Linked DNA regions of Homo sapiens. The protein of the gene in region 1 purifies or fractionates together with the protein of each later gene. This does not show direct contact. Each region holds a gene or a part of one and is shown on either strand. Other genes may lie near its edges.

Region 1 (7,487 bases):
CAACTCATCTGGCATCCCAGAAACTCTCTTTCCCACAGAGCTGATTAAGAACCATTGCTGGGGAACTAGTGTGGTCATTTGGAGGTAAGACGACACTCTGGCTTTTTGAGTTGCCAGAGTTTTTGTGCTGATTCTTTCTCATCTGAGTGGACTGATGTTCTTTTAATCTTTGAAGTTGCTGTCCCTTGGATGGGCCTCAGCCTCCAAAGTAACTGGGACTACAGGCATGCACCACCGCGCCCAGCTAATTTTTGTATTTTTATTAGAGACGAAGTTTCACCATGTTAGCCAGGATGGTCTTGATCTCTTGACCTCATGATCCGCCTGCCTCGGCCTCCGAAAATGCTGGGATTACAGGTGTGAGCCACTGCACCCGGCCCGGTTTTTTTCTTTTGCATTCTTTGATGCCCTTGAGGGTTTGACTGTGGTATCAGTTGGGTTCAGTTGACTGGGCTTTGTTTCTGGAAGATTTCAGAAGGCCAAGGTTCAGTTCAGTTCAGCACTCCTGGGCTGCTTGCTCTAACCCTGGAGGCCTGGTACCAGGCCCATTGCTTTGTTCTCCGGCCCCTTGAGGTTAAGCACCCGCTGTGCTGGTGAGGTGGAGGTGTTCCCAGTCTGCTGGCAACAACACCCTGCCAAAGCACTTCATCAGAGCAGTGGCAGCAGGATCTGTGCTCATGTGAATGCATGCTGGCAGCTGTGGTGGCAAATCAATATTGACAGTTTTTCTAGTGGATTGTCTTAAATTTCCCTGATAGTTGAATAACTATCTATAAATAATGACCAATTTATGTTCATGGATTTATCTTTTATATGAATTTTGCCCTTTGTTTGAAGAGAATATTGTTAACATCATGTTTCTCTCCATACAATTTTTTTAATTTAAATAGACAAATAATAATTGTATATATATATTTTTCTTTAATTTTTTTTTTGAGACAGAGTCTCATTCTGTCATCCAGGCTGGAGTGCAGTGGTATGATCTTGGCTCACTGCAACCTCCGCCTCCCAGGTTCAAGCCATTCTCTTGCCTCAGCCTCCCAAGCAGCTGGGATTACAGACACCCAGCACCAAACCTAGTTAATTTTTGTATTTTTAGTAGAGACAAGGTTTTGCTATGTTGGTCAGGCTGGTCTCAAACTCCTGACCTCAGGTAATCTGCCCACCTCAGTCTCCCAAAGTGCTGTGATTATAGGCACGAGCCACTGAGCCTGACCTAAACTTGTATATTTTTATGGCATACAATATAATGTTTTGATGTATGTTTACAATACACACATCAAATACAATCAAATTAATTAACAAATCCATCACTTCACATACTTTTTTTTGCATTAAAAACGTTTATTTTATTTTATTTCATGTTTTTAGAGACAAATTCTTGCTCTGTTGCCCAGGCTGGAGTGCAGTGGCATAATCAGGGCTCACTGTAGCCTGAAACTCCTGGGCTCATGCAATCCTCCCACCTCAACCTCTTTAGTGGCTGTGAATACAGGCACCCACCACCATGCCTGGCTAATTTTTAAAATTGTTTATAGAGACAAGGTCTTGTATGTTGCCCAGGCTGGTCTCGAACTCCTGGCCTCAAATGATCCACCTGCCTTGGCCTCCCAAAGCGCTGGGATTACAGGTGTGAGCCACCATGCCCGGCCAAAATGAGAAGATCTTAAGCCAACCAGGGAAGGAGTAGAGCAGTCATCAAAAGTACCACCTATGAAAACTAGAAAAAGCCCCGAGCAGATGTTAAGAGCTACAGGAATGATAAAAATATGTGGGAAGCAATCCTCTTTCAGATATACACATCCTTCCTAATGGAATATACAGATGAAGGCCAAGCCCACATCAGGAAAGCTCTGTTCAACAGCTATGGAAAATTCCTCACCCATCTGTCATCTGTAAGAACCTAAATTCGTGTCCCTGGGTCTGCAGTCTCAGAGACCATGAGCTGGGTTTCCTCCATTTATTTCAGATAGTGGGGGTGTATCCAGGTTTCCTTAGACAGTTGTGTGTCACTTAGTGACTGGGACACATTCTGAGAAATGCATAGGCAATTGTCATTGTGTGAACATCATAAAATGCAGTTATACAAACCTAGATGGCATAGCCTACTGCACACCTCAGCTATTAATAGGTAAGCCTGTTGCTCCTGGACCACAAACCTGTACAGCATATTACTGTTCTGAACACTGTAGGCAGTTGTAATACAATGACAAGTATTTGTGTATCTAAACATATCAAAACAGAAAAGGTGCAGTAAAAACACAGTATTATAATTTTAGGGGACCCCTGTTGTATGTGGGGTCTGATATTAACTAATATGTCCTTATGTGGCCCATGAATTGTAGTTCTGAAAATCAGTGATTTTTTTTTTTGAGGGGTTGGCTGTGCTTTAAACTAGGAACTGGTAATGATCCATGAAATGTATGACAGGTGGGACAAGGTAATAGTAGTCAACATTTATTGAGCGTTTACTACATGTCAGACCTTGTTAATTTTTTTTTCTTTTTTGAGATGGAGTTTTGCTCTTGTTGCCCAGGCTGGAGTGCAGTGGTGCCATCTCAGCTCACCACAACTCTGCCTCCCTTGTTCAAGAGATTCTCCTGCCTCAGTCTCCTGAGTAGCTGGGACTATAGGCACATGCCACCACACCCAGCTAATTTTTTGTATTTTTAGTAGAGACGGGGTTTCACCATGTTGGCCAGACTGGTCTCAACCTCCTGACCTCAGGTGATCCACCCGCCTCGGCCTCCCAAAGTGCTGGGATTATAAGTGTGAGCCACTGCGCCTGGCCAGACCTGGTAAATTTTACACACACACACACACACACACACTCATTTGAACATCTATCAACCCAATGATGTAGGCACCATTTTTAACCTACTTTTACAAACGAGAAAACTGTGTTTACATAAACTAATTTTCAGAGGGTTCAATAGCCCATAGACATGGATCTGAACCCTCCTAGCCATGGGCTTTGCCACTGGACCTTCCACTCCTTAGGGTTGGAGGCAGAGGTGGCATCAGGGGCTTCCCCACCATTTTGGGTGATGGAAGTGAGAGGCATTGTCGCCCTCAGCTGGGACTCAGCCAGACCTGCCAAGGTGTCTCTGATGACACAGACCATAAGGTCCGCTTCCTTCATAAAGGTCTTTCTGGGTGGTTCTCAGTACTGCTGCCCATCAGACCCACCAGAGCAGTTTAAACAGAAGAGGACCTCGCCCTAGAACTACTGAATCAAAATCCCCAGAAAGGGAAGCAGCCTGCGGGGAGTCAGTATAGTTTAAGAGCCCCAAGTGATTTGATTGCAGAGCAGAGAATGGAAAGCTCTGGCCTGGGCTGTGACTGTTCTCAAATGTGTGTTCACTTAAGAGCCAAATTTCTGGTGATTTCCTACTCACCAAATGATGGCACTGCAGTGGAAGGGCAGAAGGGTGTCTATTGCTTTTGCTGGGGATGGCCTTCGCTTTCCATCAACAATGAGATGACCCAGGCAGCAGAGCTGGGTTAGAAGTGGAAAACTTGAGCCCAGAGGTTAGAGGGAAGTGACCACCCACCCTGTTCATCCATCTCTTCCTTTCCATTATCGTCCCTGCCTAGAAGCGAAGACCAGTATTTCTGATGCCTGTTTGCCTCCAGACACCCCAGCAGCTCCTTGGGTAAAAAAAGTTGGGCAATTTAATCATCCCATCAGCCCTATGAGGAGATATGGGTGGCTAGAGGTCACTGGAGGCTTGCTTTTAGTAGACAGAAAATTTGAACCTGTGCTATGTTGACAACTCCACCCATAAATAAAGACACAGATCTTGGAGTGAGACAGAGTAGAGGACAGGGGGAGTGGTTGTTTTCCCCAAGGAAATCCTCCAAAGGTGGGGTGTATGCAGCTATGTTTTAGGTACCTATGTGGTGAAGATGGTGGGGATGGAAGGGGCTGAGTGGGAGGATAGGTCTGGTTCAGACTTGATCTATGTGCAGCTGAAACACGTGTGGCTGATTGTCAGACATGCAGTGGAGGTCAAAGTGGGGTCTCTTCTGTGCCTGCTCTCCTATAACCAAACCACAGCCCCTAGCTTCCTGCACCCCCGGTTTCTGTCCTCCTGAAATGAGAACTCACATTTGCCCTTGCACTGACATAAAGAACAGAGAGATAATCCTCAAAAGCCCAAAAGCAAACTGAGGTTCCAGGGAACATTGCCAGAGGCACCTGGACACTCACCTGGAGCACAGAGCAGAGTTTCTGCAGGGCTGCCCTCCCGTGCTCCGCCCCACTCAGGATGCAGGGAGGTGTGGGGATGTGACACTGATGGATGGCAGCAGCCCTGGCTAGGAAGGGAGGGCTGGAAGCCAGGCCTCATCACCTGCCAGATGCCCATGTGGGCAGGACCAGCCAGGCTCCCTAGGTACAAATAGCCCTGGGCTCCACGGCTCCACAGGCTCCCGGGGCTGAGTCTAAATCACTCATCATTGGTTAAAGCCGAGCTCACAGCAGAATAAGCCACCATGAGGCTGTCGGTGTGTCTCCTGCTGCTCACGCTGGCCCTTTGCTGCTACCGGGGTGAGTACATCAGTCATGAGTCCAGCACCAGCCCTTGGGACACACCCTTCTCTGAGCACGAGGTCACCTATTAAGGTTAAGGTTGGGGTCTGGAACAAACCAAAATTCCAAACCTTATCCTGTGCTTGTTGAAGGAACTGCTCATAAAGCTCGGGCCTCATTTCATCAAATCCCCAGTACCTAGGAAGTTTTGCAGAAAATCAATGCAGGCGAACGTTAGGAATTCTGCCTGAGCTTCACTCTTGGATGGGATCTGTGTCAGATGATGTAATGTGAGGTCTGGGGTGACTCTGGGCTCAGCCACTTCTCAGCCCTTTCACCGTGGGCAAGATGCTCACCCTCCCCGCGCCTCCTCCTATCTCTGGTGCTTAGAGCTTCTTCCGGGAGTGGCAATGGGAATGGAGTGGGATTATTGTGCCAAGGGTCTAGCTGTGGATGTGAAGCCAATCACTGTACTGTCAGACATTCTCGTCCCCAGACCTTTAGGTGCCAATTGAGCTCACAGCTTCTTACATTGTAAATTCAGACTCATAAAATGTTACATCTCGAAGGATCCTTGGAGAACTCTCAGTCCAAGAAGAGATGGTGCTTTCTGATTCTCTCAATAAGAAGCCTGCAAATGAATTCTTAGAATAAGCAGCACTCAATATATCTTCTAGGGGTCCTACCGTAATGGTGGTAGAAATACTACAATGGTTAGCCTCAGAACTTCTATTTTTCTAAAATTAATTCTGGCTGATTTTTCCCCAGTTCATTTGGGTACTTTCCTTTCCCCTGTCAGGACCGATCCAGACTCTGATTTTTCTCTTTCCTCTTCTTTTCTGAACCTCTCCCTGTTTCCCTGTGACACCCCGATCCTACCCTCTCCAAATTCTCCCCACAGTTTGAAGTCGGGTAGTCAGGGGTCATGTTGAGCATGGTGGGGCGCTTTCTGGATGCATGGTGTTTGCAAAAGACTTAGGTGAATGGAGATTCCAGACCAAGCAAAATGATTACTCCAGGTCTTTCCAAAATTCCCAGTGGGAGCAGGAATGAGCCTCAGTTCCCTCCTCTCATCCTCTCCAAATATTCTAGATGCTGCTGCAGAATATGGGCCAAGTACAATTTCCTGTATAAGCTTCTAATGTGTGTTAAAACTGATTCACATTATTTTATTTTGTTTTAATTTGTTTACCTTTTAGCTCTGTCTGTATTGAATCACATAAGCCTAAATTCTACAACTTGTTCTCAAAACATCACCTTCAACATTTCAATAATTTTAACTTCTTCTGTTCCAGATTTACTCATTTCTCTAATTTCTGATAGGATTCTGACTCTACCATTCCACTTCAAAATTTGATTACTCAAAGCCTCCTCTTCACCAATGTCCAAGACTAATAAAGTGTCACTTAACTGGCATAGAAAAGTGATTATTTTCAAATCTAGAAAAGAGAACGTTGGCCATCCATCCAGAGAAGCTTTGGAAAGTAATGAGTGTGCTTTAAAAAAAAAACAAAGACTGAATGAGTGATCAGGAAGTTGGTTCTCCAGTTCTAGCTCTACCCTTTGCTGTGTGACCTCAAGGAAGTCACAACCTCCTGGGTCTGACATTGTCATTGGCATAGTTATTGAATAGAAGCCTAAAACCCTGGGGTTCCTGTCTGGTCTGACATCAGGGAGGCATGGGAGAAACACTGATTTCCTTACACAAATTATATTTTTATTCTTTTGCTCCAGCAAATGCAGTGGTCTGCCAAGCTCTTGGTTCTGAAATCACAGGCTTCTTATTAGCTGGAAAACCTGTGTTCAAGTTCCAACTTGCCAAATTTAAGGCACCTCTGGAAGCTGTTGCAGCCAAGATGGAAGTGAAGAAATGCGTGGATACGATGGCCTATGAGAAAAGAGTGCTAATTACAAAAACATTGGTAATTTCTGTCTCTTTCATGTGTCCAGGCTTCTGGTCAGCGGCACAGTGTGAAGTGAGGTCAGCTTGCTTGCTGCTCTGTGAGGGACACAGGTGGTGGGGCACCTGCCTTACTGGTCACCGCTTGAGAAGGTCACCTGGGACCACAGGGTGGGTGCTACCATTTCACCTGCAGAATTCAACTCAGCTGCACACAGCCTCCTGCATGTTCCTCCTTCTCAGGTCACCTACCTGGATGCCGTGTCCCCAGAGTGTGCTGAGGACATGGGGAGTGAGCCTGGGTCCAGGCAGGGGTGGTGAAGGGCCAAGCACAACTGTCTCTCCACCTGGGGACTTTCCTGAGGCCAAGTGGACCTCACACAGTCACTGTGGAATGTACTGGGGAGTGTGGGAGCCTTGAACAGGGAGAAGAAGGCAGGGAGGGACCTAGAGCAGGGGCTCCTGCAGATGCTGCGCTGGAGGGCTGGACTTCTCTGCAGCTTCTGCAGAACCAGGAAGGAGCCCCTCCCAGCTCCTCAGACTCCACGCTCCCCTCCTCACCCACGATGCTCTCCTGACCACGGCCAGTGGGCCAAGACCCTCGCTACTCTACCTCCTGCAGTGCCATGGAAGCGGGATGTTCTCACTCTGTCTTTCTCAAGAAATCAGAGGTTTTCCAGGGGCCTCTCAGCCTGGCTGCCTCTGGGTTGCTGTCCTGAGGTTTAGCTGCAAATGCTCATGGAAGCTGCAGGCTCAGGATTGAGGTGCTCAGGCCCTGAGGCAGAATTCCCACATGGGGAGGCTGGAGTCTCCTGGAAGCCAAGCTTCCCAGAGGCCCTCCCAGCCCTGACCAACCTCTCAGCACTGGGTCTTTCATTGCGGGGAACAGGAGACTCCAAGTCCTGGGACAGCCCAGACAATAACCTCTTGCTGCTCTGCTCTGTCCCCCCTCTATGAGGACCCTGGGCCTTATGCTTGTGTCCCCCCAGGGCTATTGGCCTGGCAAGGAAAGGCTGGTCTAGGTCTAGGCCCTGGTTTCCCACACACACTGGG
Region 2 (7,612 bases), on another chromosome or scaffold:
TGTGTGCTTGCATGTGTGTGTGTGCTTGCATGTTTGAGTATATGCATGCGTGTGCCTGTGTGTGCATGTGTGCTTGCATGCGTGTTTGCACTTGTGTGTGTGTTTGCATGAGTGTATGTGTGTGTTTGTATGTTTGAGTGTGTGTGTGCGTATGTGTGCACATGTGTGGAGGCATTTCATGTGTTAAAAGATGCCACTAGAGGGTCTGAGCAGAGGGGTCTCCCCAGCTGTCTATTAGATCCCTGTGGACCACAGTGTGGAGAGCAGAGTTGGGAGGACTGCGCTGGCAACTAAGGGTCCCCATGTCCTCCAGGCAGGAGGTGACAGAAGCAGGGGAAGTGAGACAAGGATGGGTTAGGAATATTTGGCAGTGGTGGTGCCAGTTCCAAAGTGGGCTCAGGCAGGAATCCAGATGCCCCCCCAACCAGCTTTGAACCCAGTGACCAGGGATCTGAGGGCCATTCCCCAGAGCTGGGGGTGCCTGGATCCTCCCCATCTCCTTCCTCACCCAGTAGCAGTGGGGCTGCCTCAAGGGGAAGGAGATCCCAAGTATACTTTTGCAGAAAGCTCTGACTCGTACAAATGCAGAACAGTCCCCAGAGCTGCCCCAGGGGCAGGAGCATGGGAAAGCACCAAAAGAAGCTCCTCTCCAGACCCCCCTGAAATGGAACCATGTTCCTAGGAATCTCCTGCACTACTCTACAAACTCCCCAGCCCTCTGAGCTGCCGAAGGCAAACAGAAGCTAAACCAACATGGGAAACCCAGAGGGAAGAGCCCAGCAGCCTGCTGAGTCACTTCCCCTCTATTTGATGTGGGGTCAGGAGCCCCAAAGTCACAGACCCCGGCTCCAACCCCAGCTCCTCCAAGGTTGCTCACCTCCAACTTCTCTGTCTGCATTTGGGGTGCTGCAGTCCCTCCTCAGAGGGCAGTGTCAGGACCCAGTGTGGTCACACCAGGAGCTCAGAGCTAAACAGAGGGCAGCTGCTGCCGGGGCCAGACAAGAGCCGCAGGGGCTCTAGAGCCTGCCTCACACAGCCCATCCATAGCAAGAGGCACTTGCCTCTGTCCCCACAAACTGCCTGTGCAGTCTTCTCCCCACCTTCCTGTGGCGGCACAGCCTTTTCCTTATTGACTCTTGGGAGTTCTTTATATATTCAGGATACACATCCTTTGACAATTAGATGTGTTATAAGCCATCTCTTTCTAGATCCTGACTTGTCTCATTATTTCATTATTTATAACTTTTAATGAGCAAAAGTAACTAATTTTAATGTAGTCAAATTGACTCATATTTTCCTTTCTTTATTTTTTTAGTATCTTGTTTATGAAATCCTCCCCTAGCCCAGGGACAGGAAGCGAATCTGCTCTCTGGTCTCCTAAAAACCTTAGAATTTTCTGTGTGGCGCTGAGACCTAGGCCACCTGGAATCCACAGTTGCTCATGATGGGAGAAGGAATTCCAGGGCATAATGAGAGGGTCACATGAGCAGATTCTCACTGTGATGGCTTTTGCTGCTGCTGTCTGGGGACTGGACAGAAAGGTGTTACCAAGTACAGCAGGCAGAGCAGAGAGGAGGTGCTCCTTCCTGAGGAGCCCAGAGTGGGGATGGAGGGAAGTGGAAAGTTCTGGAATATATTTTTGGGAAGAATCCACCAGGCTGAGGGATGCAGGGGACATGGGGAGCATGGAGGTTCCCAGTAGGGCAACCTGGGGGATGTGGCATGTTTCGCAGAGATGGGGAAAATGAGGGAGGCACCTGGTTAACCAGGAGCTTGGTCCTGGACACGTAGACTCCAGCGGCCCTGGACCTTCCCAAGACGCAGCTGGAGACAGGGGGCTCTACCACAGAGGAGAGGCCTAGGCTCTCCTGGGCACCGTGAGTACAGAGCAGGAAGCTCCTTGAGGAGTGTCTGCCTTGGGGCAAAAGGGCGGGAACAGGCAGACAGCAGGGACAGCCCCTGGTGCTGGTGACAGGTGGCGCAGACAAGAGCTGGTGAACATTCCCCGAGGTCAGCCATGGTGTCCACACTCACTGTGTCCCTCACCACAGCTCTGCAAGCTCTCACGTCCATTTCACAGATGAGGAAATCGAGGCTCGGAGAGCAGTCAGGACTTGCTCTGCCTTCACCAGCCATGAGGATGGATTTGCGCCCACACGTGTGCCTCGGTAGTCCGTGAGGAAAGAAAGCGCTCCAGTCTTGTTTGCCAGGGAAGGGAGGGGAAGTACAGCCCAGTGGCTGGGTCAAGACCACAGACTGGAGAAGCCAGACTCCTGGGATTAGCCTCCCAGCCCGGCCTCCTATCCACTGGGGAACTTGAGCACGTCTCCAGCCTCAGCCCACCCATCTGTAGAAGGTAGCAGAGCCAGCACTGTATTAGTGCTTGGGAAATAAAATAATAAATATAACTTTTGAGGAAGATGTTCTGCCTCATTCAGGGACATGTAAGTTAAAACCACAATGAGGCTGGGCATGGTGGCTCACACCTGTAATCCCAGCACTTTGGGAGGCCGAGGCGGGCAGATCACTTGAGGTCAGGAGTTTGAGACCGGCCTTGCCAACATGGCAAAACAAAAATTAGCTGGGCATGGTGGCACACGCCTGTAATGCCAGCTACTCGGGAAGCTGAGGTGGGAGGATCACTGGAACCCAGGAGGTGGAGGTTGCAGTGAGCTGAGATCGAGCCACTGCACTCCAGCCTGGGCGACACAGTAAGACTCAATGAGGCTGGGTGCCGTGTCTCATGCCTTTAATCACAACACTTTGAGAGGCTGTGGTGGGAGCATCACTTGAACCCAGGAGTTTGAGACCAGCTTGGGTAACATAGAGACCTCATCTCTTGAAAAAAAAAAATTAGCCAGGCATGGTGGTGCCCATCTGTAGTCCCAGCTACTCAGGAGGCTGAGGCAGGAGGATGGTTTGAGCCTAGGAGCTTGAGGTTACAGTGAGCTCTGATTGCACCACAACATCCCAGCTTGGGTGACAGAGCGAGACCCTGTCTGTCTCTAAAAAAAAAAAGCAGACAAGCAAAACCACCTAGTTGAAAAACCAGTTCATGCCACTAGATTTGCAAAACTAAAGAGTGCCAAATATTGGTGAGGATGTGGGACAGCCAGACCCTTCCACACTCCTGCTAAGCTGCTGGGAGTGTAAACTGGGGCTGTCACTTGGGAAGACGGTTTTGCTGTATCTCCTGAAGCTAGACAAATCCTACCCCGTGACCCTGCAGACCGTCCCTGGATCTAAAGGTGCCCACCGAGAGGCACACACAGGATGCTCATCACAGCTTTGCTCATCATGGCTCCAGATAGGCGACAATCCCATGTCCATCGGCAGGAGAATGGGCGAGCAGGAGCCCAACAAAACAGGCTGCGAAGACGATGCCTGCGAGCAGCTGCCCTGTGCCCTCACCACACAGAGCAGACAGAGCAAACAGCACAGGCTGAGTGACCCCGTTTCTGTAATGCCCAGAACAAGCCACCCAAAACAGCGTCCCATTCTGGGGTGCAAATATAAGAGGTCACACCCAAAGAAAAGCACTTAAAGATGAACACAAAAATGAGGGTTGTGGCTGCTCCTGGGGAGGGAGGAGCGGGGTGAGACGCGGAGGGACACCTGGGCCCGGTATGAGTCCATTCCCTTTCCCTGTTAACCATGTGAACTGTAGAGAGTTCCTCTTCTGTAGGGGTGACGTGATTCACACAGCAAAAACCGCACCCCTCAGGCTACAGATGGGGGCCAAGTCCCCAGCCGGGACTCAGCCCTCCCACGACGGGGTTTTCCTGGCCCATCTGCTCTGTTATCGATGCTCCTGTTGCCGGCTTCCCCTTCCTTGGCCTGGTTGCGTCCACCGGGAGGCCCTCCCGGATGCCTCCTGCCTGGGAGTGGCGGTTGTGAGTACAGTAACTGAGTGCTGGGTGTCTGCCCCTCAGCCTTGCCATGCAGGCTGGGGGTATTGCCTGGACAGCTCTGGCCCGTCACCCTGGATTCTGCAGCCCCACACCTCACACCGTGTAGATCCGCTGCCCCACGCTACAGCCGGAGTTCGCGTCTCGCCACGCCTCTGCCGCGGGACTTTCCTCCCTGGGCTGCGTCCCCAGCCGGGAATGCGCCACCAGCCTGGGGCCTGCAGGGGGCGCCCGGGCTCCCCGCGCAGGTGCCCGCCCATCTGACAGAGCGGAACGCGCGAGGCCGAGAGCTGGGAACACCCGGCCCCGCAAGGTCTGGGAACTGCGATTGCCTCCTTCAGCCTCAGTTTCCCCCCCCGTGAAAGGAGGCCATGCTCCTAGCCTGGGCACACTGAGCCAGGCCCTGTTCCTGGGGTCGCGGGCTAGCCCGCTCGAGAGCGGGGGGCTCCCGGAACTGCCCGCGCGGCCCCGGCGCCCAGAGAGTTGAGGCGGGCAGCCGTATCGCCCTTTGAAGACGCGCGGTGGGCCCCTGCAGGCGCGCGGCGCGGGGCAGAGCGCCCTCTGGAGGCCGCCGCCGGCCCCGCCCCCGCCCCGCCCCCGGGCTCTGGGCGGCGCATGCGCGCGGCGCGGGGCTCCGCGGGCGGCGAGAGCGAGGCCGGTCCGCAGCCGCGCGGCGCTCGGCGCCCCATTCATGCTGGGCATCGGCTGCGCGGCCACGCAGCGGAGCCCGGGCGCGGCGGCGGCCTCGGCCTGGGCGGCCTACGCGGCTTCGGCGGCCCCGCGGCGGGGCGGACGGCGGCGGCGGCGCGGGCGGCTGGGCGCGGCGATGGCCGGCGGCGGGGCGCGCCCCGGGGCGGCGGGTGAGTCGGGGCGCAACTTTCCCCGCGGCGCGGGACGGTGGGCGGGGGCCGGGCCGGGCTGGGGTCCGGGGCCGGGCGGCCCGTGGGTGGGCGCGGGGCGGCCTCCGGCGGCGGCCCTCTCGTGAGGCGGCAGGCAGGGGGTGTGCGCGGGGACTGCGGCGCGCGTGGGGACTGCGGCGCGCGTGTCCGCGGCCCGCGTGTCCCTGCGGCTCCGGCCCAGGCGTCCGCGTGTGTCCGGGCGCGGTCGCGGCGCCGACGCGGAGAGACCGCACCCCCGTGCGGCGGGGCTGGGACCGCGGCCCGGGATCCAGCGCCGCGGCCTCCCCCGCCCCCCGGCCGGGCCCGCCGAGCCCCGCGGCAGCTCCGGGGTGGCGGGGGGCGGGCGCTGCCCCTCCACGGAGGCTGGGGAGAAAGTTTGCGGCGGCCCCGCGGGGAGGCCCCTGCGGTGTCCAGGCCCGTCCCGGCCGCTGGACCTCGGCTCAGACCTCTGGCCGCGGGCGAGGACGGGGTGGCCAGGCCCGGATAGGGATCGGAGCCTCCCAGCAGGGCCGCGGGGGCCGGAGGAGGTCGTGCAGGCTAAGCCCCCGGCCGGCCCTGGGGCGCGGGGTGGAAGTTGGAGCGGCTTCCCGACCACAGCTGCCACCGCTCCCACTGGCCCGGAGTGCGGGGAGGTGGGCTCTGGGTGCCGCCCAGGAGGCCGCCCCGCTCGGGCCTCCTTGGCCTCCCCCTCTCGGGGCCTCTCCAGGGTCAGCCGCTTCTCCCGGAGGCTTCCGATTGCTTCCTGGATAGTCCCGGGCCTGATGTGCGGCGAAGCTGGAGGCAGCGGGCCGATCCCGGGCTGCCAGGGGAAGGGGGAGTGGGGACTCCAGGGAGGCCCCTCGGTCGGCGTGAGGTCCCAGGTGCAGCCCTGGAAAGGAGGGGAGGGGCTCCGAGGGGCGGCCCCGGGCGGCGATCTGCCCCAGGCTCCTGTGTGGGGTTCTGGGGCCACGCCCCTTGAAAGAAAGGGGTGTGTGTGCCGGGGAGGGGACGTGGTCGAGCCTCTGTCCCCTCAGCGCGGCTCCTGTGGCTCAGGCTGCTCCGTGCTGCCCCATCTCCTTTCACACGTAGCCGGTTTGGGGGTCGGTGCAGGGATGGGGCGCAGTTTCTGCTCCCCGGGCCCTTGAGGAGCTTGCCTCAGGTCCCCTCGATTTCCTGCGGCTTGGGGTGTGCGGCAGAGGCCAGGTGCTGCACCAGGGGCACCAAGATGCTGCCCGGCCCTTGAGGAGCACCCAGCCCCCTGCCAGAGGCAGGCATGTGAACCAGTGATTCGCTGCAGGGCCAGGCTTCCATTCCTGGGGGGTGCCAGTGGGGCCCAGGAAGGGCGTTTTGGGCAGAGGACAGCATGGGCGGAGGCCTGGGTTTGTGGCCTCAGTGTGTGCTCTGGGGGTGGGGGACACATGAGGTGCCTGTGGACAAAGCAGACAGCCCTTTGCTGGACTCCTGGCCCCCCAAGGTCGTTGCCTGCCTGTTTTGAGCCCCCAGGAAAGCCCCCGTGCACAGAGCAGCTTAGAGCAGCTGGCCGGGAGGAGCGGGTGCCCCAGGGGAAGGCCTGCAAAGGTAGGCACTTTTTCTCAGGAGCAGGACTCCAAGGCCTTCAGAGCCGGATCCCCTAGGACTGGTCGGGAGCAGAACCACTGGGACCACCTCCCATGACCCCCGTTGTGGGGGAGGCGGAGTGCCAGGAGCAGCTGTCTTCCCCCCCGGCTGCTGTTGTGAGCCACTGGGCAGGATGGCAGCCCCACACCCCAACCTGCCTGAGCCATAGCAGGATCTGGCGCAGGAGGACTTGGGGGGATTGGACTCTTCCTTGTGGGGAGGGCTTTGGGGGCCTTTGTTTCTCAGGGTGAGAAGGAGCTTTGGTGTCACTCAGGCCAGGAAAGGGAAGGGGACACTGTTGGCTTGGCGTTCCACCAGGCGGCGATCCCCTCCTGTCCAGGAGAGGAGCCCCTGGGCTGGGGCTCCTGCACGCAGACCGCGGGGTCTCTCTCCGCCTCTCTCTCCCTGGCTAGCCCCATCGGCATCCCAAGGCCAGTCTAGCCTCCCCTGCCCTGGCTCTGGCTCTGCCTCAGCCTAGAACAGCTCTGGCCATGCCGGAGAGCCACAGCCGTTCCTACTGCCCTCTGCACAGCCAGTGTTTCCCACCCCAGGCCTTTGCTCCTCCTGTTCTGCCCCCCACCCCCACCACGAATGCCCACCCTCCTGCACCAGCTCCCAGGCTACCTGGTCCTCTCTTGAGGCCTTTCCCCGGCCACAGTGGCCAGCTCTGCTCCTCGGTAGAGTGCAGCATCTGCCCATGCTCCCCTCCTAGCCCCGGCATGGGCCCCTGGCACCCTGGCACCTGGGCCCAGCTTTGGAATGAATGCATTTTTTCCTAGGCAGACCCAAGCCTATGAGAGTTGAGCCCTGCAGGCTGGCTGGCTGGTCCAGTCTCTGGAAGCTCGAAATTTGGGCCCTGCCCTGCTGGGACTAGTTGGGTGACCTTGAGTCTGAGCCCCAAGTCTTATACCCCTAAGGTGGAAGAAGTGGCCCAAGCATTGTCACTGGCCTTTATTAGATGCTGGGCATGAGGGACCCAGCCCTAGGCTCGGGGCTCCCCCTTTCTTGGCCGGCAACCCTGTGACCCCAGGCAAGTCCCTTCCCAGCAGACTTTGTTGGGGCAGTGGGGTGAGGGTGGAGTTTGGGGCGGTGGGCCCAAGACCAGGCTGGAGTTTGGATGGTGGCTTCTTAGCCTGGTCCCTCCTGTTGAATACAAAAAGTAGGGCCCATAATTGCATTAAGACGTGTATAATTATCCCAGAGGAGGGG

What was found. The genes of interacting proteins can lie anywhere in the genome.
Region 2: the proteins of SCGB1D1 (region 1) and PLXNA1 purify together in Homo sapiens (co-immunoprecipitation; 3 studies listed by BioGRID and IntAct, with this or other methods). This does not show direct contact.

Annotation. Positions count from the first base shown.
Region 1 is NC_000011.10:62,185,788-62,193,274, forward strand, and holds the start of SCGB1D1 (secretoglobin family 1D member 1 precursor), read left to right. Parts: upstream 1-4,428; 5' UTR 4,429-4,497; coding exon 4,498-4,552; intron 4,553-6,268; coding exon 6,269-6,456; intron 6,457-7,487. UniProt on the Homo sapiens protein: May bind androgens and other steroids, may also bind estramustine, a chemotherapeutic agent used for prostate cancer. May be under transcriptional regulation of steroid hormones.
Region 2 is NC_000003.12:126,978,520-126,986,131, forward strand, and holds the start of PLXNA1 (plexin-A1 precursor), read left to right. Parts: upstream 1-4,595; 5' UTR 4,596-4,768; intron 4,769-7,612. UniProt on the Homo sapiens protein: Coreceptor for SEMA3A, SEMA3C, SEMA3F and SEMA6D. Necessary for signaling by class 3 semaphorins and subsequent remodeling of the cytoskeleton. Plays a role in axon guidance, invasive growth and cell migration.